Linked DNA regions of Homo sapiens: all the other regions are linked to region 4. The links come from fine-mapping of genetic effects on gene expression. A gene starts in region 4. Each other region holds a variant in brackets. All regions are shown on one strand. Distances are between the middles of the regions.

Region 1 (7,589 bases), 250 kb after region 4:
CCTGACCAAAATTGTCCAGAAGCCCCTCTCGGGTTTTTCTCTAAAAGAAACCTGTCTTTGACGGTTAAGCTGCATTCTGTGTTTCTTTCCTCTTTCTTTAACTCTTACACTTCCCAGGCTCAAATGATCCTCCTGCCTCAACCCCCAAGTAGCTGCACCATCATGCCCAGCTAATTTTTTTGAATTTCAGTAGAGATGAGATCTCCCTATGTTGCCCAGGATTATCTCAAACTCCTGAGCTCAAGGGATCCTCCTGCCTCAGCCTCTCAAATTGCTGCAATTACAGGCATGAGCCACCATGCCCCACCACGTCTTATTTCTTTCTGTGTAGATCTCTTTCTTGCCTTACAGGGCACACGCTGACTATATATGTGTTATCTTAGAATTTCACTCTATCAGTCTGGGAGCAGGAATGGAGATAGAGACAGGTCTCAAGGGCTGTGTCTGTGTCTTTTGGTGAGGAAGATTCTGCAGCATCTTTCAGTATGGTCAAAGTGCTAGCTCTTACTAGGGAAAGATGGGCCACCCATCCATGCCCAGAGGATGGGGGTGGGAATGTTGTAGATTCAGCATCACTAAGGACATCTCTCCAGATTTCCTGCTTAAAGGAGTGTTTAATATCTCTGGTGCTCTGAGATCCTCATAATTAGGTCTTGAGCTTGCCTTTTATTGTGCCTGCCCTTCAGCTATAGGTGGTAAAGAGTTCTTTATATGCAACCACCATTACCACTGCAGTCTCTATGTTTCCCACACTTAGCTATTAAGTGCATAATAATGGCTCTCAGTCTCTCATTCCCCACTAACATGCAGTCAATGCACTTAGCCTTAGCCAGCCAATTGTGCTATATACATATATATATATATATATATTTTTTTTTTTTTTTTTTTGAGACAGAGTCTTGCTCTGTTGCCAGTCTTGAGTACAGTGGTGCGAACTTGGCTCACTGCAATTTCCACCTCCCGGGCTCCAGCAATTCCCCTGCCTCAGCCTCCTGAGTAGCTGAGATTACAGGCGCACACCACCACACCAGCTAATTTTGTGTATTTTAGTAGGGACAGGGTTTCACCATGTTGGCCAGGATGGTCTCGATCTCCTGACCTTGTAATCCACCCACCTTGGCCTCCCAAAGTGCTGGGATTACAGGCGTGAGCCACTGTACCTGGCCCAATTGCACTATACTTATAAGAAGTTTCCCTCATATTTCCAAATGCAGATATCATCACACCCATCGCAGCATTTGCCCTGACAGGAACATTTTCAAGGCCCCCCTACCAGTGAAATATTAGCAGTTGGACTGCATCTTGTTACCAGGACCATACACGTGCTTCTGACCTGCCAAGTAGGTGAGTTAATTTTACAACTCCACCTTGCTGTCTGTTTTCTCAAACCACTCTTGGTACCACTTGTGTTAACCCAGATCCTCTGAGAAGCTGACATTGACAGGAGTAATATTCAAGGATTTTATTAAGGAAGATGCTTTTGAAAAGAAAATGAGGGTGAGAGCTGGAAAAGGCTGGGAAAGATGTCAGGCTAGGAGGCAAGTGTGAATCTAAGTGAAGATGAGAGGGAGAGAATGTTGGGTGGAACTGTCCTAGACTGTCATGCAGTCTAAGGAAGCTTCAACAAAGCCAGCAGGGATTCCTTGAGTTTACATTGCCAAAAGAGGAGTTTAATGTCTCCCAGAAATGAATCTGCTTTTGTAGCCCTGCCACGCTCAGTCCTTGACAAGGGAGCAGTCTTGACCAAGTAAGGTGTGGCCCCGGCCAAAATAAAGCAATGTATCTCAAAGCATAGCATCTGGGGCACTGGTTGCACTCCTTATAGTGGGAGCTCTGCAAGCCACAATTTTATGGCTACCATAGAAAGTCAATGTAAGTTCAATCAAAGTCCTATGTGAAATTTTTTTTTTAATTGACAAGCTAATTCTGAAATGTAAACAGAAAAGTAAAGGACCTAGCATACCTAAAATGATTCAGAAAAGGAACAAAGCTGAAGGACTTAGACAACCTAATTTCAAGACTACAGCAATCACATATAAGGTCATGCATTGCTTAACGATGAGGATATGTTCAGAAATATGTAGGTGATTTTGTTGTTGATTTTGTATGTGTGAACATCATAGAGTGCACTTATCAAACCTAGACAGTAGAGCCTCTTATATACCTGGGCTATAAGGTCTAGCTTATTGCTCTTAGACTACAAACCTGTTCATCATGTTACTGTACTGGATACTGTAGGCAATGGGAACACAATGGTAAGTATTTGTTTATCTACATATACCTAAACATAAAAGAAAGTATAGTAAAAACATGGTATTATAATCTTATGGGACCACCATCCAGTATGCAGTCTGTCATTGGCAAAAATGACATACAGTGCATAACTGTACACATAAATTAATGAAATCAGCCTAACAGTACAGAATCCAGGAATAGACCCCTGTCTACATGGCCTATCGCAGGGGTGTCCAAACTTTTGGCTTCCCTGGGCCACACTGGCAGAATGTGGCAGAATTGTCTTGGGTCCCACATAAAATACACTAATTCTAATGATAACTGATGAGCTAAAAAAAAAATTGCATAATGTTTATGAATTTTTATTGGGCTACATTCAAAGCCATCCTGGGCTGCATGCAGCCCATGGGCCATGGCTTGAACAAGTGTGATCTGTTGGTTTTCAAAACAGTGCAAAGATCACTCAATAGGGAGAGAGATTCTTTTCAACAAATGATGCTGGAACAATTGGATATCGAGGTGCAAAAAATGAACTTTGATTCTTACCTCACACTACATACAAAAATTAACTCAAAATGGATCATAGATCTAAATAACAAATCAAAACTATAAAATTTCCAGATGAGGATATGGAAATTTTGTTTTCTTGTTACCTTGGGTTAGGCAAAGATTTCTAAGAACATAAAAATCACGAAGGAAAATTTTGATAAATTAAACTTAACTGAAATTTAAGCAGCTGGGCTCAGTGGCTCATGCCTGTAATACCAACACTTTGGGAGGCTGAGGCGGACAGATCGCTTGAGCTCAAGAGATTAAGAGCAGCCTGGGCAACATGGTGAAACCTCCTCTCTAAAAAAAGTTAAAAAAAAAATTAGCTGGCACACACCTGTAGTCCCAGCTACTTGGGAGGCTGAGGTGGAAGGATCACTTGAGCCCAGGAGGCAGAGTTTTCAGTGAGCCGAGATTGCACCACTGCACTCCAGCCTGGGTGACAGAGCCAGACCCTGTCTGGGAAAAAAAAAAAAAAAAGAAAAAGAAAGAAATTTAAAACTTTTGCTTTTGAAAATACACTGCGAAGACAATGAAAAGAAAATTCACAGGCAGGGAGAAAATATTTGCAAAACATATATCCAGAATATATGCATAATAGATAAAGAACTCTTACGGATCAATAATATGAAGACCACAGCCCAATTTCATTTTTTTTAAAAAAAAAGAAGGGCAAAAATTTTGAACTGATATTTCACCAAAGAAAATATATGAATGGCAAATAACATGAAAATATGTTTGATATTGATAGCCATTGGGAAATACTAATTAGAACCACAATAAAATCCTACTACATATGCACTAGAATATCTAAAATTAAAAAGTCTAACAATACCAAGTATTGCCAAGGATGTGAAGCCACTGGAATGCTTGTGTATTGCTAGTAAATGCAAAATGGTGCAACCACTTTGGAAAACAATTTGGCTGTTTCATATAAAGTTAAACATACAGGTGCCATTTAATCCAGCAATCTCACACCTAGGCATTTACCCAAAATAAAGGAAAATATATATTCACACAGACTAGTGAATTCATGTTCATAGCAGCTTTATTTATAGTAGCCCCAAATTAGAATCAACCTAAATTTTGGCATATCTGCATAGTCACACAATGGAATTACTTCTCAGCAATAAAAAGGAATGAACTACCAATATACCCAACAACACAGATAAATCTCACAACAATTATTCTAACTGAAAGAGTTCGGACACAAAAGACTATATGATTTTATTGATGTGAAATTCTAGAAAGGACAAAACTAGAGTAGCAGATCAGTGGTTCCCAGGGCCTGGAGCTGGGGGAAGGAGACTGTCAACACATGAGCACTGGGAAATGGGGGGATGATGGAAATGTTCTGTATATCATGAGGGTGGTGGTATAGGTGTTAAAGAAAGAGGAAAGAACACAGAAAGCAGCTCAACAGTCAAAGACAGGTTTATTTTGGGGAATAAACCTGAGAGGGGCTTCTGGCCAATTTCCGTCAGGAGCACTATCTCTTACAGACTAACAGTATATATTGGTTTTAGGGTGACGGGGCTTATCACAAGCTTGGAATGTTTCTGTGTTGGGCAGAAGTTTTTGACAGGGTTGGAATGTCTCTGGGTGGAGGGAAGGTTATCTTGGGGCTGACATCTTTCCGGCCGGAAGGGAGGTTATCTCAG[G/T]GTTGGCATGTCTCTGGTAGGGGATGTTATTTGTGGTTTATGGTCATGCTGATCTTAGCCATTAGGCTGATGCCCTTTGGATTTAGGCAGTTTTTGATCAAGGTGAAGCTTAAAATGGCAGTGCTTGTCCAAAATGGTGATGCTCCTGCTCTGACAGGTAGTAGTTACCCAACTTTATGCATTTGTCAAAACTCATTGAATTTTATACTTCAAATTGGTGAATTTTGTTGTATATATATTATACACCAATAGACTAATTTTTTTAAGTAACAGAAAATAAAATAATGATGGAGACATAAAATGGAACTTGTAGTAATAATCTTAAGGTTATTAAATAATTTTATTTAAAATTGACTTGTATTTAATGGACTGTGCTTTTGTTTCTCAGGTTTCTAAGTGCTATCTTGAAAACAGAAGTCTAATAATTTACAAAATTGACTTCTCAGTTCCAGGATGAAGTAAGAATTTTCTTCTGTGCATAAAGTGGACATCATTTGAAACAGCAACAATATTGTCATAGTAGACCCAACAAAGACTTTCACTGGACTGTCTCTCATACTGACCCATTACACAGGTCCATAATTCAGTGAAGCTATTTGGGGATAGTCATTACAATTCTACATAAATCATCAGTTCTTTACCAAGCTGCCATAATCCATGGTTAGATTTTAGAGCATCTGAGAACATGGAATACTGTATGATCTCCAATTATTTTTTGCTAAATATGACTTCTCTCAATAAGGCTTTTGACAAACATTTTGGGAATTAGCTCGTGGTTGCCTTTCTTGGCACGGACAGTGCTAGAAACTACTCAATGGTGCACATGACCACAGACCCCTAAAATCTTGAACTGATCATTGAGCTGGAGGTAGAAATAACCTATTTGTGGAGGTCAAGGTCTCTAACAAGGGAGGAGTCGGCTACCTTTACCTTTTACCATTCGTTCTCCTTTCGTATTTTCAATAGGAGAAATACAGAGAAGTTAATGGCATTGAGCGGTTCCATTGTCTACTGCCTTTCAGAGATTGAGAAGCTTGAGCCAGTTGTATGTTTTTTTGAGATTCAAATGTATTAAATAAGAAAGATATGCCAAAACAAGTCTCTAAATATTGTGATAAATTTAAGTGTTAATAATTAATAACTTATTATGAATCAATAATTCATAAATCTACTGTATATTTACCTTCATTTGGAGATAAGTCAAAAGACTACATTTGAAGCCCCTTTTGTGCATGATGTCCTGGGGAAACGTCCCTCTTGCAGCCACTCACCCCACCCCAAATAGGTTCTATTCTTCTAGGGTAAACTATTTAATTGGGGTCCGCAAAGTCCTATGAAAAGAGAATGAATAATTATTTCTATATGCCAAGAACGCTTTTAAATGCATTACTTGTATTAACTCATTCACTTTTTACAAGCGTTGTGAGAATAGGATTAATACTATGAGATAAATCCTATTAGGTGAGGAAATGAAGATAGAATAGTTAGTAACTTGCCCACTATCATGGCTGGTAAGTGGCAGAGCTGACTCCAAAGTCTGTGCTCTTAACTGTCATGTTGGAGGTTGGATCATGTAAAAGTAGCCAATTGTCAATCATGTGTGACTAACAAAATTGGCAATTTCATATGGTTCAACTTGATGTAATGCTCAGATTGGCTGAAGCTATGTTTTTATGAGCATGAATATATGGGGCACATTTGTTTCTATTGCCAGTCGAGAATACATATCAACCTTTTATCTCAATTTGACAAATCCAGTATTTATTTCTGAATTCTTTTTGCTCCAGGGCAAAGACATTTTAAAATTCATGTCTGCTTTGAGAAGGGGTGGGGGGCACAGCTAGCTAATCAGAGCTTAACAAAAGGAGGGACTTTCTAATGACTAGAGCTGTCAAAGCTGGGCTGATGGTCACTATGGACAGTGGTGGGAGCTTCTGTCCTGGGAGGTGCCCTCAGAGATGGGATATGCTATTACTCAATAAGTCTACCAACGGTTCCTGCCTCATTAGAACTCAGCCAGTGCAGGAGTTAGACATCCATCAGACTCCTGCATGCCCAGAATGTGTCAAGCTTGCCCTGCTGGACTTTTTACTATGGGTACTCTGTTTTTCTTCCTAGATGTCAACATTTAGAAATCATAGTGTTACCAGATGGTCCTTGCTCCTGGAGCTCCCAAGATGGTGGTGGGCCGCTTCCACAATGGCGGTGGGCCGTTTCCAAGATGGTGGCAAGCCTCCTGATCTCTGACCTGGGGTTCTTGGCCTCACGGATTCCAAGGAATGGAATCTTGGTCCATGCAGTGAGTGTTATAGCTCTATTAGAAGCTGTGGGTCACAGAAGAGAACCGTGGAACCCAGTGACTGTGTTCAGCTCAATTAGGACGAACCTGCGCACTTAGCAGTGCAGGAACAATGGAAAGCTTTTAGCTCAATCAGGACCAGCAATGTGTGCCTCGCTGGATCAGGAGCACAGCGGACACCCTGCTGGATCCAGAGGGATGGAAGTCAGTGGCAGGTCTGCGATGGCGGCAGACAGCAGTGGTGGACGGTGAACGAAAGCTCAGTTCAAGCCGTAACAAACAGGGACCAGAAGAGTGGGCAGTTGCAAGATTTAATAGAGTGAAAACAGAGCTCCCATACAAAGGGAGGGGACCCAAAGAGGGTAGCTGTTGCTGGCTCCAATGCCTGGGTTTATATCCCAATCATTGTCCCTCCCACTGTGCTTTCAGGCAATAGATGATTGGCTATTTCTTTACCTCCTGTTTTTGTCTAATTAGCATTTTAGTGAGCTCTCTTTACTACCTGATTGGTCGAGTGTGAGCTAAGTTGCAAGCCCCGTGTTTAAAGGTGATGCGGTCACCTTCCCAGCTAGGCTTAGGGATTCTTAGTCGGCCTAGGAAATCCAGCTAGTCCTGTCTCTCAATAGTCAAGGGGATTGTATTGAAAAATGGGGAGGTTTCTTTTGCTCTGGTTGAATATTTTTGTAATTTCATGAAGGATTCAGAGCAAAATAGTGCTCTGTCTTTCAGAAGCACATTGAGGGTCCTTAAATTTCATAGTCTAATTTTACAAGGTCCCTTTCTTGTTTCCATAGGTTACTAGAAACTATTTGTTTCTTTCCTCTGGACAGAGCCCACAGAATTCA
Region 2 (7,589 bases), 180 kb after region 4:
TTCTGTTGACTGGCTCCATACAGAGACTATCTAGGGGTGTCACCCTACGTAATCTCTTTACCATAAACTCAGAAAGTGATCAAGTGGCTTCATTATAAATAACAAAAATAGTCCTATCACTCAGAAGATTCCAGGGGTTTTAGGAACCCCATGTCAGGAACTGGGAACAAAGACCAAACATATTTCGTATAATACCCCAATGACCATTACCAATTGTCATAGCCATCCAAGGATACAGATGTATTTCATAAATAGTCCTCTTAGTGTGGCTTAGGGATAAAAGTTTGTAGACACCTGCTCCAAACTTTGAACATTGAATTTAAGGTTGGCCAACCTCAGGCACTCTGGTGTGTTATTTATAAATAATAATTCTTCACCCCCCTCGTCCTCTTATCTGTCATATGAAGAGCCCATGGGAACCCTTAGCATCAGGAATCCAACTAATTTCCATTTGATGGGAGGATACAGCTGGACTTCCTACCCCCATACTGACATTCCTACTTGGCAGAGGCGTGACACTACCCTTATTTAGGATTCAAGAAACTTGCTATTTAAGATTTAGGAAAAATTCCTTTCTTCCAGGGACATTTCTCTTGAACATGTTTTGTTTCACATGTAATTTAGTGGTCACCTAGGGGCCAAAGAAAAACAGAGACTTTTGTCTATTTGTTTATTTCTTAAGGCTATCATGAAAGAAAATCCACGAATAACTTGAGCTGTCAATGGAAACCTTTTTTTAGGACTAGATCTCTCCTTCACATTTAGGTAGTGACTGGGACATTTATGGAAGAAAAATAAATAATAATAATAATTATTATGATAGCTTATCATTGTTCAGCCTTTGTTCTGTGCCAAAGATACAGATGATCTCATCTCATTCTTACAACAACCATGTGAAATTGGTGCTATGATTAATTTCAGTTTCACAGAAACTGAGGCCAGTGAGGTTAAGAAACTTCCTAAAATCACACGCAGCTAGTTAGTGTTGCAAAATCTGAACCCAAGCAATATGTCTCAGTAGCATGTGCCCTCTAGTATATATGTGTATATATATGTATAGGATAAAAGGATTCATACTTTTGTAGCAGGTATAAATCTTAGTCTATAAACTCAGATGCTTTATTTTCCATAAATCAATGTAATATCCTCTCTAAGCCCTTTTCCCACTGGGCTGGAGGAAATAAAAGCTTGACCATTCTTGAGGTTTCTCTATCACCATCTTCAGCAGATTTGAGCAGGGCTTGGGGATCTGCCTGACATGTCAAGATATTGGATAGACTAGGCCCCTCTGTTTGATGCCTGTTGAGAGGCACATTGTCCCTGGCCACGTGATAATCTCTGTTCTGTGGGCTTCTGTACCAAGCTTGGGACCAAGAGTCTTGGGGCACTTCCCCAGGTGTATCACACACTCACCTTCCCTGAGGTCCCGCCATGGCCTCAGGGAGCAGGAGCAGATCCTCATACTCTTGGACTAGGGAATTTTTTTTTCTTTTTTTTTTTTTTTTGAGACAGTCTCATTCTGTTGCCCAGGCTGGAGTGCAGTGGCGCAATCTCGACTCACTGCAACCTCCACCTCCCAAGTTCAAGTGATCCTCCTACCTGAGCCTCCAGAGTAGCTGAGCCTCCAGAGTAGCTGGGAGTACAGGCATGCGCCACCACGCCTGGCTAACTTTTGTATTTTTAATAGTGACGGGGATTCACCATGTTGGCCAGGCTAGTCTTGAACTACTGACCTGAGGTGATTCACCTGCCTTGGCCTCCCAAATTTCTGGGATTACAGGCGTGAGCCACTGTGTCTGGCCTGGACTAGGGAAATCTTAATTGCTCTGAGAAAATGCAATCTCCTCTTCTTTCCTCCCTCCCTCCTTCTCTGTCTTTTACTCTCTCTTCTCTCCCCGTGAGAGAGCTGCACTTTGCACTCTTTCTTAAGCCACCGATCTTCTCAATGGACTCAGAATTTTGACAGCTTTTACAGTAGGGAACCCTACCACAGCACGGACCTTGATACCTCTTTGAACAGGCGAAGGTCAAGGCAAAACACAGAGTGAAAGCTTCAATAAATATTTCAAAACACACTCTTGCCACATCACCTTTCGCTTATTTTTACAATATGCTGCACGCTTACTCACTCTCACACTCACAAACATAACTGCACAAACATCATTTCCCATTCTTTTGATGTTTAAATACTTTCCTTCTCCTATCAGATGAAGTTTATATTATCTAGGCTTTGTCTCTGACAATTCTGATGTTGTTGTTATGGAAATATGTCAAGACATTTCTTTGTAAAAATTCCCAATGAGGCTGGGCACAGTGGCTCACACTTGTAATCCCACCACTTTGGGAAGCTGAGGTAGGAGGATCACTTGAGTCCAGGAATCAAGACCAGCCTGGGCAACATTGTAAGACCCCATCTTTACAAATAATAGTAATAATAATTAGCTGGGCATGGAGTGCATGCCTGTAGTCCCAGCTACCCAGGAGGCTGAGGTGGGAGGATGGCTTGAGCTTGGGAAGTTGAGGGTGCAGTGAGCTGTGATCATGCCACTGTGCTCTAGCCCAGGTGACACAGTGAGATTCTATCTAAAAAAAATTTTCCAATAAACTTTACATTATAGTGATGCCCCTGTGGTTGTGGGCAATGTATAAATGATTTGACTAATTTTTTCCCATATGTCAATTCAACCCTCAATATTTTCCAAATTTATCTTAGAATTTATATTTAAATTTATGAATTATCTTGAAAGACCTGATTGTTTGGAATCTACCCTCATCTATTCTACTTATTTGAATCTTTAGAAAGATTATTAAAGGAATATTTAAGTGTGTTGTTTCATGGAAATTAGGAATACCGAGTTATAATGTAAATATATTCATTCAGAAACTGGGGTGGGGGTCGGGGGGGAAGTCCTCAGGGAAGATACAGTATTCACTATTGACGTTGGTTTAATATTGCTTTGTACAGTTGTTTAATATGTACGTTGTTTGTATTTTATCTTGTATATATCTCTCCACCACACATTAATCCTTGGACTGTTAGTACATACAGAACACATGTCGGGATGCTTTCTCAGTGGACCTCATCTTCAGGGATCATTTTATTTCCACAGTTTAGTGCCTCCTTACTAGAATAGAGAACTCCATAATTTTTTCTAAAGATTCTATCAGTCTTGATCCAATGTGCTAGGTGATAAATGACTGAACGCTGGCCCCGGAGGGGAAGTTAGCAATGAGTCATGCTGTCTCCTAGTAACCAGTCAGTAAATAGCTTCCAGCAAATATTTTAAACCTCAAAGCACACTTACCTTTGGTATTATCCTTAGACAGACTATCCTCATCTATATCTGCACTCTCATCTCTCTTTCAGAACTTCTAAGAAAGGAGAAAAAGTGGGATCGGGTTTGCATATGACGTCACCCCCTTGAAAACCCACATGAAAACATTCCTACCCCAGGGAGTCTGTCTCAACAAACCTTTTCCTTGATTTGTTTCTCTGTATTTTGCTTGCCCTCAAATGTTATGAAGCCATGTATACTCCACGTAATTTTCATTTGTTTGTTTCTAGATAGGCCCTTCTATGTAACTATTCAATGAGTCCATACTGATGTGTGATTTCAGAGTTTAGCATGGAGGTCAGCACACGATCAGAACAGAAAGCGACACTCAAGCACCCTGCTCACACATCCCACCAATGACACTGTTTCAGACTAATTAATTTACATGTGTAAAGGTTATTTAAAACATAAATCCTCCCTAAGTGAGAGGTGGGAAAGGGGAGAATTAAGCCTATTAATCTTGTTCACCTTATCCCCACGTAAGACTGTTTTCTTTAGACATTTAGGGTCAGACTCTGTAGCATGGGAGTCCTTATTAGGGATATGGAAAAAAACACGAGAGTTCGTTTTGGAGCATGGAACATCAAAAGATGTGTCTATGTAAATGAATGCAAAAGGCTACTTTAGATGGACAGAGAGCAGCAAGAGAGCTCCAGACTTTAGCAAAGGAGGGATGCAAAGAGAAATAACTAGGAAGGGAAGATGAGTAGCAGGAACCAAGGTCACTGTGAACCCTCTTAGCCTAACTCTAAGGTACGGCTGCAAGTCTCTGAATTAAACTGTGAGCCTTTTAAAGATGTGATTTCTTCTGTTTCCTTGTTTTCCTCTAAAACTC[T/C]ATACAGAGTAAGTGTGCAGCAAATGTTTGCTGAACAAATACACTTCCATTTTAGGTAAAAAGTATAGATGGTCCCTAGACAGAAAATAAAGCACTAAGACTGTTTGGCAGGGTTATAAGAGGTAGCGCTGAGATTTTGCCAAGAAGGCTTTTGGCTTTTGGCTTTTGGAAAATTAGTCCCAAAAGTTAGTGCTCTCTTGGATAAACTGAACCCCCGATCCTTCTTCAGGGCATCTTTTAAAATTTATTTATTTTTTATTTTTTTCAGACCAAGTCTCACTCTGTTGCACTCCCAGGCAGGAGTGCAATGGGGTGATCTCGGCTCACTGCAACCTCCACCTCCCAGGTTCAAGCTATTCTCCTGCCTCAGCCTCCCAAGAAGCTGGGATTACAGATGCTCGCCACCATGTCTGGCTAATTTTTGTATTTTTAGTGGAGACAGGGTTTCACTATGTTGGCCAGGCTGGTCTCGAACACCTGTCCTTAGGTGATCCACCCACAGGGCATCTTTTTTTTTTTTTTTTTTTTTCTTTTTTCTTTTTCCTTCTTTTTATTTTTTTTATTTTTTATTTTTATTTTTATTTTTTTTATTATACTCTAAGTTTTAGGGTACATGTGCACATTGTGCAGGTTAGTTACATATGTATACATGTGCCATGCTGGTGCGCTGCACCCACTAATGTGTCATCTAGCATTAGGTATATCTCCCAATGCTATCCCTCCCCCCTCCCCCGACCCCACCACAGTCCCCAGAGTGTGATATTCCCCTTCCTGTGTCCATGTGATCTCATTGTTCAATTCCCACCTATGAGTGAGAATATGCGGTGTTTGGTTTTTTGTTCTTGCGATAGTTTACTGAGAATGATGGTTTCCAATTTCATCCATGTCCCTACAAAGGATATGAACTCATCATTTTTTATGGCTGCATAGTATTCCATGGTGTATATGTGCCACATTTTCTTAATCCAGTCTATCATTGTTGGACATTTGGGTTGGTTCCAAGTCTTTGCTATTGTGAATAGTGCCGCAATAAACATACGTGTGCATGTGTCTTTATAGCAGCATGATTTATAGTCCTTTGGGTATATACCCAGTAATGGGATGGCTGGGTCAAATGGTATTTCTAGTTCTAGATCCCTGAGGAATCGCCACACTGACTTCCACAATGGTTGAACTAGTTGACAGTCCCACCAACAGTGTAAAAGTGTTCCTATTTCTCCACATCCTCTCCAGCACCTGTTGTTTCCTGACTTTTTAATGATTGCCATGCTAACTAGTGTGAGATGATATCTCATAGTGGTTTTGATTTGCATTTCTCTGATGGCCAGTGATGATGAGCATTTCTTCATGTGTTTTTTGGCTGCATAAATGTCTTCTTTTGAGAAGTGTCTGTTCACGTCCTTCGCCCACTTTTTGATGGGGTTGTTTGTTTTTTTCTTGTAAATTTGTTTGAGTTCATTGTAGATTCTGGATATTAGCCCTTTGTCAGATGAGTAGGTTGCAAAAATTTTCTCCCATGTTGTAGGTTGCCTGTTCACTCTGATGGTAGTTTCTTTTGCTGTGCAGAAGCTCTTTAGTTTAATTAGATCCCATTTGTCAATTTTGGCTTTTGTTGCCATTGCTTTTGGTGTTTTGGACATGAAGTCCTTGCCCACGCCTATGTCCTGAATGGTAATGCCTAGGTTTTCTTCTAGGGTTTTTATGGTTTTAGGTCTAACGTATAAATCTTTAATCCATCTTGAATTGATTTTTGTATAAGGTGTAAGGAAGGGATCCAGTTTCAGCTTTCTACATATGGCTAGCCAGTTTTCCCAGCACCATTTATTAAATAGGGAATCCTTTCCCCATTGCTTGTTTTTCTCAGGTTTGTCAAAGATCAGATAGTTGTAGATATGCGGCATTATTTCTGAGGGCTCTGTTCTGTTCCATTGATCTATATCTCTGTTTTGGTACCAGTACCATACTGTTTTGGTTACTGTAGCCTTGTAGTATAGTTTGAAGTCAGGTAGTGTGATGCCTCCAGCTTTGTTCTTTTGGCTTAGGATTGACGTGGCGATGCGGGCTCTTTTTTGGTTCCGTATGAACTTTAAAGTAGTTTTTTCCAATTCTGTGAAGAAAGTCATTGGTAGCTTGATGGGGATGGCATTGAATCTGTAAATTACCTTGGGCAGTATGGCCATTTTCACGATATTGATTCTTCCTACCCATGAGCATGGAATGTTCTTCCATTTGTTTGTGTCCTCTTTTATTTCCTTGAGCAGTGGTTTGTAGTTCTCCTTGAAGAGGTCCTTCACATCCCTTGTAAGTTGGATTCCTAGGTATTTTATTCTCTTTGAAGCAATTGTGAATGGGAGTTCACCCATGATTTGGCTCTCTGTTTGTCTGTTGTTGGTGTATAAGAATGCTTGTGATTTTTGTACATTGATTTTGTATCCTGAGACTTTGCTGAAGTTGCTTATCAGCTTAAGGAGATTTTGGGCTGAGACGATGGGGTTTTCTAGATAAACAGTCATGTCGTCTGCAAACAGGGACAATTTGACTTCCTCTTTTCCTAATTGAATACCCTTTATTTCCTTCTCCTGCCTGATTGCCCTGGCCAGAACTTCCAACACTATGTTGAATAGGAGTGGTGAGAGAGGGCATCCCTGTCTTGTGCCAGTTTTCAAAGGGAATGCTTCCAGTTTTTGCCCATTCAGTATGATATTGGCTGTGGGTTTGTCATAGATAGCTCTTATTATTTTGAAATACGTCCCATCAATACCTAATTTATTGAGAGTTTTTAGCATGAAGGGTTGTTGAATTTTGTCAAAGGCTTTTTCTGCATCTATTGAGATAATCATGTGGTTTTTGTCTTTGGCTCTGTTTATATGCTGGATTACATTTATTGATTTGCATATATTGAACCAGCCTTGCATCCCAGGGATGAAGCCCACTTGATCATGGTGGATAAGCTTTTTGATGTGCTGCTGGATTCGGTTTGCCAGTATTTTATTGAGGATTTTTGCATCAATGTTCATCAAGGATATTGGTCTAAAATTCTCTTTTTTGGTTGTGTCTCTGCCCGGCTTTGGTATCAGAATGATGCTGGCCTCATAAAATGAGTTAGGGAGGATTCCCTCTTTTTCTATTGATTGGAATAGTTTCAGAAGGAATGGTACCAGTTCCTCCTTGTACCTCTGGTAGAATTCGGCTGTGAATCCATCTGGTCCTGGACTCTTTTTGGTTGGTAAACTATTGATTATTGCCACAATTTCAGAGCCTGTTATTGGTCTATTCAGAGATTCAACTTCTTCCTGGTTTAGTCTTGGGAGAGTGTATGTGTCGAGGAATGTATCCATTTCTTCTAGATTTTCTAGTTTATTTGCGTAGAGGTGTTTGTAGTATTCTCTGATGGTAGTTTGTATTTCTGTGGGATCAGT
Region 3 (7,589 bases), 540 kb after region 4:
CTTTCATATGAGGTAACTGGTGCCTAATTTTTGAAAATATACAAGCAGCAACTAACTAGGATACTATAAAATGAATTCCTACAAAACTGAGGGAGATAATCTCCCATGTTCCTTCCAGCTCTAAAAATTGTATAACTTTGAAGTTTTATTTCAGTCCCAGAAGATTTCAGATACACAGATATTTCAAGTTCATTGAAAGAGAGATCAGAAAAGTAGAACTTTATAAAAGATAGAGAAAGAATTTAATAATGAACACAGCATGCAAAACAAGCAGCTGATCCTCCAAAGCAAATGTCTTAGGAGGCAAAGAGCAGTTGTCTTCACTTTCAGAGGCTGATGGAAGGTTATGGAGCAAGTTCAGAGGGTGGCTCTAGGACCACATATCTGGGAAATCAAGTCTTCTTCCCTAAAAGAGCCATAAGAAGCTGTGCTTCCTTCAAAAGCTTATATTTGGGTGGGCATGGTTGCTCATGCCTGTAATCCCAAGGAAACCAAGGGAGGAGGATCGCTTGAGCCCAGGAGTTTGAGACTAGACTGTACAACATAGTGAGACCCCTAACTATACGCAATTTAAAAACTAACTGGGTGTAGTAGCATGCACCTGTAGTCCCAGCTATTCAGGAGGCTGAGGCAGGAGGATTGCTTGAGCCCAGAAGTTTGAGGCTGCAGTGAGCTATGATTGCACCACTGCACTCCAGCCTGGGTAACAGAGCAAGACCTCATCTCTTAAAAAAAAAAAAAAAAGAGTTTCTATTTTATAGCACTAGTTCTAAAATTGAGAAAGGGAGTGTCTGGATGGGGTGGAGAGAGCATAATGGAATCAAAAAGGAGTCTTTTCAGATAACATCTGCCCACTCTTGGAAGCTCAGGTCTTTTGGTAGAGTATGGGAAGGAGGGTGAAAAGATGGAGAGGGATGACCAGGAGGAGAGTTTGAAAAGACTTCTCAGGCAATTCTAATGGTCTTAGAATCACTTCACATGAAATAGAATAAAAAAGAATTTTCCTTCTTTCTATCTACCATTGTGAATGATTTTTCCTCCAAACTTCGCTTTGCTTTTCATCCGGCCTGACTTTTCTTATGCATTGTAGGCTGTTTCAGAAATTGCTGTAAGGATTTGCTTAGTAAAATTGTCTTAGCCAAGAAAAAAAGATTTTTGTCCTCCAATTTCAAAAACTATTAATTTGTGGTGATAACGATCTTTTACATCTTGGGAGTTTGGAGAAAATATTTAAAATGATACAATTGCCAAAAATGTGGTAAATTCCCTTTTGGGTTGCTGTTAGTTTATCCCAACCAGACCTCCCATGTTAAGGGAGTTTCCTGAACCCCCTGACTTTTCAAGACTATGAAACGTGCTCCGGGTACAGCTCCCTCAAGTCTCCACACCCTCCCACTCCATGAAAGAGACAGAACATCTGCTCCTCATCTCTGGGAAAGTATATTTAATTATTGGATGCTTTCCTTTTCAAAATGATGCTGGCTTATTGTGGGTTTTTTTCTTTTTTTTTTTAGCCTCCAGGGCACAAACAAAATAAAATCATCCCTTCGATGTTTAAATCAGATAATAGCATCTGCATCAACAAAAATAACAGCTAATAGTATAAAGTTGTTTCTTTTATACTTACTGAGAAGCAAGAGTCAATAACAGGCGATGGTTCTCTCAGCATCCATGAAATGAATTTACTAGAGGAAACTTCTAGAAGCAAGGCTGTGCCAAGTACAGGACAGGTAGGAGCAAAGGAAGATTACATCATCTCACAGGTCTGAGGATCCCACAATGATCAGCTATTGTTTCTTGGTCCTAACAGAATCTATCGGAAAATTGTGTTTGTGTGTAAGAGACAGAGAGAAAAGAAAAGAAAAAAAAAAACCACTGGGGGAAGACAGGGAAACAAACCAAGCATGTGAGTCCTCTTACTGAGAAAACATGATGCCTTTCACATCTTGATATAAAAGATGGTTAAAATGAGAAGCAGAGATTTCACTGCAGTAAATATTTACCGAAGAACCCACAAAAGTTTAAGAAAGTGTGGTCCTGGTATCATTCACATTTGAGCACCAACTAAAGACCAACATTACCCATTTCCGTAAGAATTTTGGAGGAACAGCTTTGTCATTTTTCTAGTGTCTTATTTGTTTTAAATCCTGTTCTTCTAAAAGCAAATAAGAACTAGCCAAAAGAAAATTTGTTCTTGTTTTAGAGCAGGAGAGGGAGAAAAAGATAGGAAACATTCACCAGTTTCAATTCAATGTAACTCAATGAATATTTCCCGAACCACTTCTAAGCCAGACAGAGTCTCTGTTCTCCGGGAGTGGATATCTACTCAGGAGACCTGCAATTAAAGACTTGTGTAGTGCAGTTTGGAGGGGAACTTAACTCAGACTTGGAGGGAGGGGCAGACCAAGGTAGGTTCTCAGAGAAGGGATATCTACACATCTTTCCTAAGCTCAGCTGCTTTTTCAGAATTTCCAGGGAAGCCTTTGAAACTACATATTCCAGGATCTCTCTCTGGATCTTTTGAAATTAGAATCTCTAAGAGAGGACTGCACATTTATGAGTTTCCCCAGGCAAAACAGAAGTGGTGGTCTGATCTGGGCTGTGGGAGGAGAAGAAATATCAAGGATGTATAGGAGCCTGGAGGTGAGGACAAGCCTGGAGGTGAGGAAGAACTGGAGGACAGTTGGATGTGACTGTGCCTGAGAGAACAGTGTGGGGACAGTCAGCTGTGGAGAGAAGGGCAGCCACGTCATGAGGGCCTGTGCACAGTGGAGAGGAGCTTGGCCTTCCTCTAAGGACAATGTTGTTGGATGAATGGGAGATGGCAGCTGGAAGGAACTGCTATCATGGGGGCTGTGGAGATAGCCGTGAGAATACAGGGGAGCCACACCAGAACCAAGTCCTTCTCCAGGGGTTTTAAACAGTCAGGGGGACTGGCATGGTGGCTCATGCTTATAATCCCAGCACTTTGGAAGACAGAGGTGGGAGGATCGCTTGAGCCCAGGAGGTGGAGGCTAGAGTGAGCCGTGATCACACCACTGCACTCCAGCCTGGGAGGGAGACCCTGTCTCAAAAATTAAATAAAATATAAAATTAAAATAAAATAAAATAAAATAAAATAAAAACCAAGAATCAGTTCCTTCGCTCTTGTTCTATTATTTACCACCTTGCCCCCTTCCCCTTTCTCTATATGCCTTCCCATGGGGAAAGCAAATGAGGTGGAAATATACATGTTGATGAGGTGGAAATATACATGTTGTTTACAACCAGCTGGTATACCCTTGCTCTTTCACTTGAATTAGCAGAAACGTACACAAATTCATGAAAGGAGAAAGGATGCAGCCCTAAGCCCTTTCGACCACCCCTCTGGCAGGCTGCCTTGTATTACTTCTTTCTCCACCAACACTGCTTTTGATGCTCATTTTAGCCGCATTTGCTTGTCAACCACTATCATGGTTTGTTTGCGCCCTCTCCCTCTGATGATGGGGCTGGACCCATGCCCCTGAGACACATGGTAGGATGGTATGCACACTGTCCACCCTGTCATATGACCATATCCTCAGATTACAAATCTCCTTCCTGGCTTCATTAGGGAGTCCTAATGTTGTAATGTAAGAATCTGAGTGGACTGGGTGCAACAATAAAGAAGGGATACATAACAGAGGAAAGGTAATCTTTCATCTTCATGTTCCAGGCAGCCCCACCCCTCCCCCTAAGGTGCACTGATGCTAGCTTGACTAGTGAAACTGGAAATCAGGAAGAGATGTCAGTAGGAAGATTTAGTAAAAACATTTAGCAGTAAGGTCAAGAGATAGATCTTTGAAAACCACA[A/G]ATTTCTCCCCAAGCCTCTGTTTAAGTGAGTACACTTTCACTAATAAGAAGTGAGGTTTCCTGAAGCAGAGGAAGTAGATAAGCAAGAGAAAACCAACTCCTTGATAACAACAGTTAATACCTTTACCAGTAACCACATATAAAATAAACTGTGCTGGGGGACAAATTAAAGACATCCCCTTCTTCCACCAGGTTTTCAAACAGGGACTTTTATTGAAAGAATCACCCAGCCCGGAGAATGTCAAGTTAAATGTAACTACAGATATTGGCCAACAGGTCACTCCAATCCTTACACAGCTTCTTGTAGCTCTATTTCTGGGGTTTCTAAGGGTGAGGGGGAAAGTAATTAAAGAATGGCTAAGCTTGGCTGGGTGCAGTGGCTTACACCTGTAATCCCAGCACCCAAGGTGAGGAATTCGAGACCAGCCTGGCCAACATGGTGAAACCCCATCTCTACTAAAAATACAAAAAATTAGCCGGGCATGGTGGTGGGCACCTATAATCCCAGCTACTCCGGGAGGCTGAGGCAGGAGAATAGCTTGAACCCAGGAGGCGGAGGTTGCAGTGAGCTGAGATCACACCACTGCACTCCAGCCTGGGCAACAAGAGCAAAACTCCATTTCAAAAAAAGAAAAGAAAGAAAGAAAGAAGAAAGAATGGCTAAGCTAAAACTTTGTTTTCTACTTTGGATTCAATCCTAACTATTTGAACCCCAAATCAAAAGATGGAGAGTCTGGGAGCTTTGGTTTCCCCTACTCAAAAGTATTTTCTCTTAAAGCTAGGCTAATAGGTTGGAAAGAGGACTCACAGCTTGAAAACACCTAATAAAGGTCATTTTGAAATGCAGACATTAATGTTGGCGAAAGAGAGCTTTCATACAACAAATCATACTAGGGAGTGTACAGCAGTGTCTTTCCATTGGATTCTTGTTTTAGAGGCAAAAAAATCCTCCCATATGAATTGAGTTATTATTCTAATGTTGTAGTTTAAATCTGTTAAATAAAGCCAAGATTCAGATCAAAGGTAAAGCAATTTAAAATAAAAAACCTAAGAGCTGAGCTCCTTAACTGAGCTCTGCTAAAACAGAGAAAACTTAACAAAATAAGAGTATCACCATCTTGAGCTATTCTTCCCAGGAGACGGAAAGAAAAATGGAGCAATAAACAGAAGCAGAGAAATGCAGGGGAGATAAGGAAGCCAGAGTATTCTGTTATCCATGGGCAGGTGGCTTGTCTGTGTCTCGCTCTTTAACTGAACCCAAATTCTGAATGTGTAAGTGAGGTAGAATAATAAGTCTTTCCTTCGGTGTTTGATATAGTCTGAAGCTTGTGAATACGGATTCAGAAACATCTGTCTTCCACATCATCTGACTATAGCTTGCCTTAGACTAAAATCTTGGGTGGAACTAATAGCTCCAGTCATGCGAGTTGATGCTTCCCAGGAAAGGAGGTGGGAACACAGAAATATTAATACAACCATCAGAGAAATGACTTGAAGCCAGCAGCTGATGTTATTTAGTCTCATTGACTTACAAGGACTGGGTAGTTTTGAAAGGGAGTTATGAACATGGTTAAGGGCTTGCTTGAAGAAAATGTTGGCAGGTATCAAAACCAGACTGTGGCCACTTCTAAGATTTCAGTTGACATGAATTTGTGGTTGAGAAGTCAGGAGGATTTCTCTGGATCTAGAGTTCAGTCCTTCCTAGTCCAATGCCAAATCCAAACTGGGCATGAAAGCCAATCTTTATAGAGTCAAAGACACCAACAGTATAAAAACTTTTATAATCTGGTTTCTACAACATGATTCTGGTTGGTTAAATTTCCATCATGTTGAGGAAGACGAATGGAAGTCATCAAAGGCAGGAGGCGAGTCTAGGCCTGCTTGGGGTCCAGGGATTAAAAAATTTATACTGAGTAATTCCTTAGCCTTCAAGCCCGAAAAATGCAATAATGAAATCAGGTTTGATCCTGAAGAGATAACCTGGGCACTGCAACATCAAGTCAAGAATCTTCCATTTTTCTGTTTCAGCTCTAAAAGCAAATTAAGTAAATGTGGCCGAAATCAAACGTTTCAACTTTATGAGTCATCATCCCCAAAATAATATTTATGTTTATATAAAAGAACAACAAGGTATTATTTCTGAATCTGCATTTAAGATACACTTAGAATCTGTATAATACTTTACATTTATTTTATTCCTAATTATTTAAAATCATTCGGAAAGTCACAGGATGATTTTTATGGCAATTTCATGTTCCTGACTTCAAAGAAGTCACATTATTTTCCTAGATAGGCCCAGCAGCACAGATCCCAAAGTCACAAGACTGCTTATTTTCAGTGCCCTGCTTGGCAGGTCATGCCTAGTCTCCAGATGGGTGGTTTAGTGACATAGAACTTCATTTTGAGTTATGAGATCTAAGTAGAGGTCCAAGCTACTACCCCTGGGTCCAGTGATATTGGGCCAATTTGCAGTGATCTATATTTTTGACTTGACTTATATCTAGCCCCTTTGAAACTGTATTCCCGGCTGGGCACAGTGGCTCATGCCTGTAATCCTAGCACTTTGGGAGGCTGAGGCGGGCAGATCTCCTGAGGTCAGGAGTTTGAGACCAGCCTGGCCAACATAGAAAAACTCTGTCTCTACTAAAAATACAAAAATTAGCTGGGCGTGATGGCAGGCATCCGTAATGCCAGCTGCTGGGAGGCTGAGGCAGGAGAATCGCTTGAACCCGGGAGGCGGAGGTTGCAGTGAGCCAAGATCTGGCCATTGCATTCCAGTCTGGGCAACAAGTGCGAGACTCTGTCTCTCAAAACAAACAAAATGAACAAACAACAACAACAACAACAAACTATATTCCCATCAGTTCTGTTCCTAAGTTCTTTAACTTTTGTTATTAAATACTTTTATTGCATCTATGAGAAAAATGCTTTTATGAAATACTGATATACTAAAGCATATAATTTCAAGCCATCTAACCATTGCATAAACATGACATGTGAAGTAGCAAACTGTATTTATTAACAACATAGTCTCTGGAGTCAACTTCCTAGCTTTGTATCCCTAGCTTTAATGATACCTATTAGATATGTAATCTTGAGCAAGTTTTTTAACTTGTCAGTGTCTGAGGTTTTATAAGTTATCTGCCTTATAACTTTTTTCTTCTTCTCCATTCTTTTTTATACTTTATTTTTTTAATTCACACATAAAAATCATACATCTTTATGAGATACATAGTGATATTTTGATGCATATATGCATAGTGATCAGATCAGGGTAATTAGCATATCCATCATCTCAAACAATCAGCATTTCTTCAGTGAGGAAAATAAGGCACATACCTCATACAATAATTATGTGAGAATTAAAAGCAATAATTTATGTAAAGTTATTAAAAGAATGCCTAATGCATAGTATAGTGCTAGACAGTCTGTTTCTATCAAATCAATATTTGTACATAATTTAAAAAATAAAATAGTACTGAGTGGGAGGAAGGGGAAGAGGGGTTCTAACCAATCCATAAATGGAATTTCCAGCCTTTAGAGATAGCTTTTTGGCCAGTTCTTGAGCCTACCCTGGGTCCAGAGTCTGTGAAATACTAAAAGGCCTTTTCATCGTCATTTCTTCCTGAAGGCACATAGATTTCCAATGTCTAGTCCCCCCTGTCTTGCATCTTCTGAAACTTCTCGTTTACCGTGTGTCCTCTCTTATCCTTTGATCTTCAACTTTTTGAAATCATTTACCATCAGCTTTGAAGCAA
Region 4 (7,589 bases):
ATCTAGCTTTATATGTAAATTACTGGTTATTAAACATTCCTTAACTTTTTAAGGGGAACTCTAAAAGGTCCCCGTAAGTCCTTCGTGTGGCTCTGAGTGCAACACTCCAGGAAAAAACACTCTTTGATCTCAGGAAGGTTGACTCAGGCAGAAAGCCAACTGAGATCTGAGAGGACTCTTCCCCCCAGCCCCGAAGTTTCTTCCTAAGGAAAAGGTCTTCTAGCATTAAAAACATTAAATCCCCTCAATTGATGTTAACATGGTCCCCTGGGAGCTTCTGCTAGACTTAATTATCCCCCAAGAAGTGTAATCACATTAAGTAGCAAGTTCTAAGTGGAAAGTGACTGAAAGATGCTGTTCGACCCCTTGTGTTGTTTTTTGATGATAAGCCTGGTCTATGTCATTGATCAGTGGGGATTGTCTTTGATTGGCTTAAAGCCAAACCTTTTGTTGTTGTTGTTTTATCTGCCCATAAATCTAAGTGATTTTGAGTTATCTCTGCTCTTGAGATCCAAATCAACAGAGAACAAAGTATATTTGGTGAAGCAGAAATAATTCTGCTTTACTTCTCCAAGTAAAGTTGTTCAAGCTTGGAGATCGGATCAAAGCAACGGGGCAGAAGGAAAAGTAAATAGCCACATGGCATTAATTCTAATTACCTAAATGTTGGGTGAAAAATAACCCACCACACAGGTCTGGGTATCACATATGGTAACCCACATTCTCACATTCTGGGAAAGGTGAGCTAAGTAGTTTTGAGCCTTCATTTCAAAAATGCTCAAGTGAAGCCAAATAAACCAAGTAAACCAGTCTCTGGGCTGCCTATATTGTTCAGCATAGATTCTCATTGTCACATTTTATGATGGATTTCATACTGGAGCACCTCAGCCTGAAATGCTGCCACATTTATTGATGCTTAATTTTGAGCAATAAAAATTCGGTGCATAAACTATATAAGAGAAACGGTATGAAAACAGTGAAATATATAAGCCTATCAATCACAAATTTTCAGTAATGGTAGATGTAGATTTTAACACTGCATCTAATAGATTCCCTGTGGAAAGAGAATGGCATTCTTTGCTCTCAGCATGAATTTATAAATCTACAGAATTTTATTACAGGAAAACCAGGTCAAATGGAAATGAAAGATGAAGTGCACATCAAAAATGCATAAAGCTACATGCATTACAGAAATCATTTCCCATAAATTAAAAAAAGAAGACAATATAAGTTATATTGTTTTTCTCAATCGCTAGGTGCTTCTGACTTTGTTCCTTAGACTGGGGGTAGTCTTATGCTGGTTTCCTTTGCACTGGCTTGTAAAAGTGTAAGCTTTGCCAGGAAGAAATGATGTTGCAACTGGAGTTCAAAATCTCAGCTAATGATCATGTTGGACTCTGTTATGTGATTCTGCTGAGACTCTTGCATTATTTTGAATGTGCAGAAAACTTGGAAAGTGACCTCGTCTCATTAAGTTTCCTCTAGCTCTGGACAAACATCATGGTAGTGTCTGGCATCTGTTACAGGAGTGAAATAAAACAGCACTGGTTCTAGTCACTCGACAGAGTCACTTCAGAAGACATTTAGGTGGACTTGGTACCACACCAGAGCTCTTTAATCTGTGACTTCTGAGAAAGTGACAGTGTAATAAGATAATGTGGACTGCTAGACTCCCTGGCTCTGTTCAATCTCTCTAGCAGTTGATTAAGAAAGAGCAGTTTCTAATGACTCTGGACCATTAGTCCTAAATAAGGTTAATGAATTAATTTAGCAGACACTGGTTACTCAGAGGAGGTGGACATGGCTTTGAGAGGTCTGCTGAGTTACAGAGGCATTTTCTGGCTCTGGTCACTTCAAGCATAGCGACATGGCTTTTGCTGGTAAAGCTCAACAACTAAAGCCAGATTTTCAGCATTCCCCAGATTTCTGCTAAGAAAACTAAGAAGTGTGTGTGTGTGTGTGTGTACTGCATATATATTTGTGTAGTTCACAACCTAAAGTCTGATAGCTCTTTGCATTGAGCTTCAAATCTATCTTGTGAACACCCCCACTATGGATTTAGTCTCAAGAGTTGTGGAGGACAGGGTTACTATAATTTCTAGTCCAACCATTTGAGCTCTTTCAGTTGGACGAGAATGCTATTTCATTCCCTGCCAGAGTATAGAAAGATGCTACCAGCTCAGGTTCATTAATAAATTGAATTCTACATTCATAATTTTTTGTGTCTTGCTTTCCTGCCAGATTATAGAAAAATGCCATCAACTTGGGCTCATTAATAAGCTGAATTCCATGTTCATAATTTTTTTTTTTGCATGTGTTTTGCTTTAAGCATCTCTTAAAATACTGCTTGGTAGCTGCTGAGGGAAATCCATTGCTAAAATCACAAAACCTTGAAAAAGCATATTAGAGAGATTAACTTCCATCATAAAGATGTGATTTAAATTCCTGTTGGTATGAGGCCCTCCACTTGCGGTCTCTTATTAAAACAATATACCACAGTAAGTAGTGGATGTTCTTTTCTTCTAATTACTGTGATTGAAATCTAAGCCAGACAAAAGTAAATATTTGATCATTAGTTAATAACAATTGCTGACGACTTACTGTAAAGATAATTGCATACCCTTGCCTGCACTTACTTTACAGTGTGAAGTCAAACATGCCTACAACCAGATCCCATTTTAAAACACATTATTTAGGTTACATGGTACTGTTTAGACCCCAGTATAGTTTTTCATTTACTTAACAGTGAGTGATTTTAAAAGCTAAGTGGAAGCTGCAACTAGCTTAGGGATTTTCAGATATCCTGGTGCCTTACACTGTATATGTCAGATTCCTGTATTGATACTATGTAACTTTCAGTCATACTCCAGACAGATTACGGAAGGTGTACAAAGGCGGGGGAGGGAGTTTCATCAACCCACAAACCGATATCTCTGGCCGTCACCCACCAGAGGAAACGGCTTAGGGGAGCAGCAAAGGAACCAGGAAGTAAGATCTCCTGGTAAAGTGTTCATTAACTTTCAACAGCCATCAGATTTTTGAAAGGGAGTCTCTTCTAATTGCCTTTGGGAGGAAACATTATTAAGATAATTGGCATGCTGATCTGGGAAGGTAGACAGCTCTGTCTTGTAACAGAGGTAAGGAAAAGCCCCACAGCCCAAGGATCAACGTCAGGAGGGAGCCCAAAGACCTGAAATCCTCCTGCTCTAAACCGCCTGATCTCATTTCTTCTTCTCTCCTCCCAGATAAAAGTTTCCTTCGCCCGGGAGTCGGTTGTTCCCGGCTGATCCCGGGAAGCCCCGCCTGAGCCCCGGTCCGGGGCGGGCAGCTGGGAGCCGGGGCGCCGCTGTCACCCGCGCCTCTGCCTGTCACTTACCGTTGCGAAAAGCGCCGGCCGGGGCGAGGACGAGGGCGAGCACGGCGCAGAGGAGCGGCAGCCCCCTCTCCATTCTCCCTTCTCCGGGTCCGCAGGCAGACGCGGGAGAACGAGGACGTGGGGGGAAATGCAGCAAAGAGGAGAATCTAAGCGATCCGAAGAGCCCCAACTCCGCCTAGAGCTGTACAATCCTCAGCCCGTCTTGGAGAAAAGAAAGCAGCGAGGCAATGCCTGGATCCGAGAGGAACGCTTCTCTTTTTGTGTCTCAAGTCGCCTGCATCCTGTCATTTAGCTCCGGCTTCCTCTCCCTTTTCCCACACTTGTTCCTCTTCCAGGAGCCACTGCCCGGGCCATGTCTCAAAAAAAAAAAAAAAAAAAAAAAAGGCCGGGGGGGGGCTGTGGGTGGGAGGGGGAGGAGGGAGGTAGGGCAACACACACCAAAGCCAATTTCCAGGAAGAAAAAAAAAAAATCCGGCTTGTTTCTGGACCCGTTGGAGCCGCGGAGCTGGCGCCCAGGGGAGGTCCGGGTGTCTGCGGGAAGGAGGGGAACGAGCAATGAAAAGATGAGCGGGAGACAGAGGAGTTTCACCAACTGCACCCCCGCCTCCCCTCCTGCGGCCTCCCCCCACTCCGGAGCCCTTCCCTCGCTTCCTCCCGCCCCTCTCCCCGCTTGGGCTCGCCTGTAATTGCCTGACAGGAGACTGGGAGGAACAACTTTCCCTCCGAGTGCTCTCCCCGTCCGTCTGTCTGTCTTTCCCAGAGACCCTGCAGGGATCTCCGCGGGAAGGAAGGCGCTGGGAGTCTGCGCCCCGGTCGCGTGGGTGCGGGCGTCGGAGGAAGGGGCGCGGAGGTCAGTGCCAGCCGCAGGGTCTGGCCAGCCCACCTCGCGTGCTCGCTCTGCACCCCTAGAGGGAGAGCTGGGCAGCTCCTGCAGGCGCAGATCCCGCCGCCGCGCAGTGCGGAGCGCCCGGGAGGTGGCGGCTGCTTCTCGCAACTTCAAATCCCGGGGCCCGCGCCCTCGGCGGCGAGGAACGCAGGGTCACCCCCTGCCACTCCTCATCGCGCCATCCTGAGACCTGTGGCGGGGAGCAGCGGGGCACCCCTGGACGCCCCTGCCCAGAGCTGGAGGGCGAGGAGGGGAAAGCCGGGCTGGAGTGGGAGCCGCACCGCGAAGCCGGGCGAGGGGCAGCAGTGTCGCTGTGGTGTGAAGCGAAGACAGACCGCCTGGGCGGGCGAGGCCGGGCTGCAGCCCCACGCGGCCTCCCTGGCCCGCATCAGGGCGCGCGGCTGGGTGCCCTCTGCGCGCCGCGGAGGCTTCATTGTTTCCCGAGATTTGGTGCCCGTTCCTCTGGGGCAGAGGGAACACCGGAGGGTGGGAGGTGCTGCGCCTTCCAAGCAGGGGGGCAATCGCCGCCCGACCCCGCCCAACCTTGTCTGGGAGCCCAGGTGCTAGGGAGGGGTGTGGAAATCAGGGGTCGGGCGGCCCCCGTTTCTCTGTGCATCCCGAGGGAGGGAAAGAGTGGCGGGGGAGGGGTGCTCTTCGCTGCGCCCTCTCAGTGTCCGCTCCCGGCCACAGACAACGTGCACGCCGGCCCTGGAGCTCCTGCCACCCCCACTTCCCACAGCGGCTCGTGCCCCCAGCCCGCTGGATGCCCCCCAGGCCCGTCCCCGAGGGTTTTCCGAGAAGTGCTGCAGGAAGCGTTTGTAGATGCGAAAAGCAAGGACATTTCTGGGAAGAAACAGGTTGCGGTCACCGATCAGGCCCCGGAGAAGGGTCAGTGCCCACGGGGCACCTCCCAGGGAGTTTGTGGGTAAGGTGAAAAGGTCACACGCCTCCTGGGGATTGGCGTCTACACACACAGCCAAAGTACAGCCTGATTCCTACCTGGCACAAATAGCTGGCCAAAGGGAGGTAGGAATGCTGGCAAGGAGACTCTGGTCAAAGGTTTTGGCGGAAGAAAAAGGGGCGGGCAGGGAGAAAGCCCAAGGCGCGCGGGCCCCAGGCCAGGACTGCGCGCTCGCGACTCGGGCTGGGAGCAGTGACGTGCGCCCCTCGGGGTGCAGGCCGTTCCCGGGCCAGTGGGAGGTGCACCCACGGAGCCCGCACTCGCCACTCTCTTGCCCCGGGTCAAGCCTGTCTTCTCCTCCCCACGCGCCTCGGGATTCCCAGTCGCCAAGTTGGAAACTCGGCCCCCCCGAGCGCCTCTTTCCTCTGCCAGTTTCCTCCTTCTTCTCAGCTGTCGGACCCCTGGGAGGCGCGGGGTGGGAAGTGGGCACCGAAGGGCTGGGAGTTAAATGCCTAAGTTGAGCGGAAGGAGCACTGTCGAAGCCATGGGCAGCCCTGCGCCCGGGCAGGCGGGCAGGCGGGAGGCGAGGCGGGGGCGCCGACCGCGCCCAGCGCAGACCCCGGGGGAGTGAGCGCCGCAGAGGCAGCCTGGGCTCTCGGCTACTACCCGCGCGCGGTCGCCGCCTCCCCAGGTGCAGCCCCGCCAGTCCCAGCCCCCGGCTGCGCCGGGCGAGCGGCATCATCAGATTTAGGGTGACCCGGAGCGACCTCGGTCCAGGCTCGGAGGGAGAGGCGCCTCTCAGGACCTGGCAGGTTGACAGGGAAGGGGAACCGGGAGGGAGCGGCGGCCGGGGCGGCCTGGAGTCTCGGAGGCCCGCCTGCGTCCTGGGGGGACCCGACCTCCGCGCTCGCTCCGGAGCGCCCGTTTGGATAGCTCTGAGCCTCGGCGGGGTGAGCGAGGGGGCACACGAGGGAGACTTGAGCTGTGTTGTTTTTAGAAAACTGCCGCCAATCTCTCTTCCCCTTTCCCTGCTGAGTGTGCATTTTCCAGCCTAGACCCGCCAGGCCAGCAAATAAAGCCACCGGATCGTGCACTCCGGAGCGACTGCCCCCACCCCGACCTTGTCTTTCCCGAAGGGAATGGCTCCTCCGGCGCCTCAACGCACAGAAAACGCCTGCCTCCAGCTGAGCGCTTTTGCCAGCTTTCTCCAACCAGTGAATAAGGGATGCACTATGGACTCAGAAGGAAATGTCATATTTAAGTTCTGCCTCTGATTTCTCTGCTCTTAGCTGATCTAAGGTTTTTCTAGACTCCTTAGTTTCCACTCACAGTGCTGGGTAATGGAGCCCTACCGCACTGATTGAGAATTGCCGGCCAGTGGGTTGGTACAGAGCAAATTGTCCTTGCTAACAACCTTTTTCCTTTGCTGTTGGATTCCACTAAGTGGTGAGAGGGGTCAGTTTTAGATTTTTGCAATTCCCCAGCGTGGAGACAGGCCGGCTCTATACGAGAATAAGTGATAGGCAGAGGAAGAATTTGGCAGTGTTCCCGGGTTGATTTTATTTTGGTCTCTTGAACACATTATTCTTCCTGATAGAACAAATCCCTGGACTTGGTAGGACCCAGTTCCAGGGAAGGGAAGAGTCCTCTACCGCACCCCCAGAACGCCCTGCAGAGGCTGTGAGTGGGCAAAGCCCAGTTTCCTGGACTCCCACTTAGGAGGTGCTGCAGAAATAAGGCCTTCAGCTGGGGCTCCCTGAGTCGGATTGGAACCGTGGCCCATCAGTAAGAGTAGACTGGATGGTAACTGCTCGATTCCTTTCATCAAGCTCTCATCCCTTTGTCAGAAATAGATGAAATCGATTGCTCCCAGAAGGCCATTTGAGCCACTAACTCCCTCAAAGTACTTCAGATTCATGCAATATGGAGATTCGGGTTGGTAGTTCAAACTGCATCATATCTAGTCAAGTTTTTTGAAAACATCAAACCCATAAATTTCAGAAAAGCAATACAAGCTCCATATTTTTAGTAGGAGCTAACCTAGTTTTGAGATGTATGAATAGATGAAGTGAAACTGGAAAAACATTAAAAGTTGGAATTTTAATTAACTAATGTTTAAAATAAGCCTATTAGTGGTTATTCTGTCAAGTGACTGTGTCATGCAAGAGGTGTCATCTGGGCCTCATTTTTGGCCATCTCCTTGATTTGTACTGACAGAGAAGGAAGGAAATAAACAAATGAATCTTCACTTTCTGATTCTACCTTTTTAGCCTTTTAAAAGTTACCTTGAAAATTCCTCAAATATTGGAGAAACGACTACCAACTAAAACGTTAACACAAAGTTACAATGTGAAGTTTTTGTGATACAGTATATTTACTAACCAACAAGATGAAGAAAGATAATGCTAAATTTTGAATCACACTAG

Which allele goes with the higher level. Alleles are on the strand shown, and positions count from the first base shown. SD is a standard deviation of normalised expression in the study named. Not every link is listed here.
As copies of T replace C in region 2, the expression in tibial artery of the gene that starts at base 3,734 in region 4 goes down (small effect, 0.16 SD a copy in GTEx).

The links.
Region 1: its variant is fine-mapped to the expression of NRP1 in whole blood (INTERVAL, PIP above 0.99).
Region 2: its variant is fine-mapped to the expression of NRP1 in tibial artery (GTEx, PIP above 0.99).
Region 3: its variant is fine-mapped to the expression of NRP1 in whole blood (TOPMed, PIP above 0.99). The same link has a PIP of 0.9 or more in blood mononuclear cells, monocytes, monocytes after LPS, monocytes after Pam3CSK4 and monocytes after R848.

Annotation. Positions count from the first base shown.
Region 1 is chr10:33,584,994-33,592,582 of GRCh38, forward strand. LINC02628 (long intergenic non-protein coding RNA 2628) reads right to left here. Exons shown (of 4, transcript NR_187516.1): 3 at 5,629-5,776. Among named protein-coding and RNA genes, the nearest start is that of LINC02628, 12 kb to the right of the region's middle. The variant G/T (reference allele first, on the strand shown) is at 4,446.
Region 2 is chr10:33,506,100-33,513,688 of GRCh38, forward strand. No RefSeq gene overlaps it. Among named protein-coding and RNA genes, the nearest start is that of LINC02628, 91 kb to the right of the region's middle. The variant T/C (reference allele first, on the strand shown) is at 4,171.
Region 3 is chr10:33,867,885-33,875,473 of GRCh38, forward strand. No RefSeq gene overlaps it. Among named protein-coding and RNA genes, the nearest start is that of LINC02629, 32 kb to the right of the region's middle. The variant A/G (reference allele first, on the strand shown) is at 3,832.
Region 4 is chr10:33,330,934-33,338,522 of GRCh38, forward strand. It overlaps NRP1 (neuropilin 1), which reads right to left and starts at 3,734. Exons shown (of 17, transcript NM_003873.7): 1 at 3,377-3,734. The coding sequence starts at 3,449.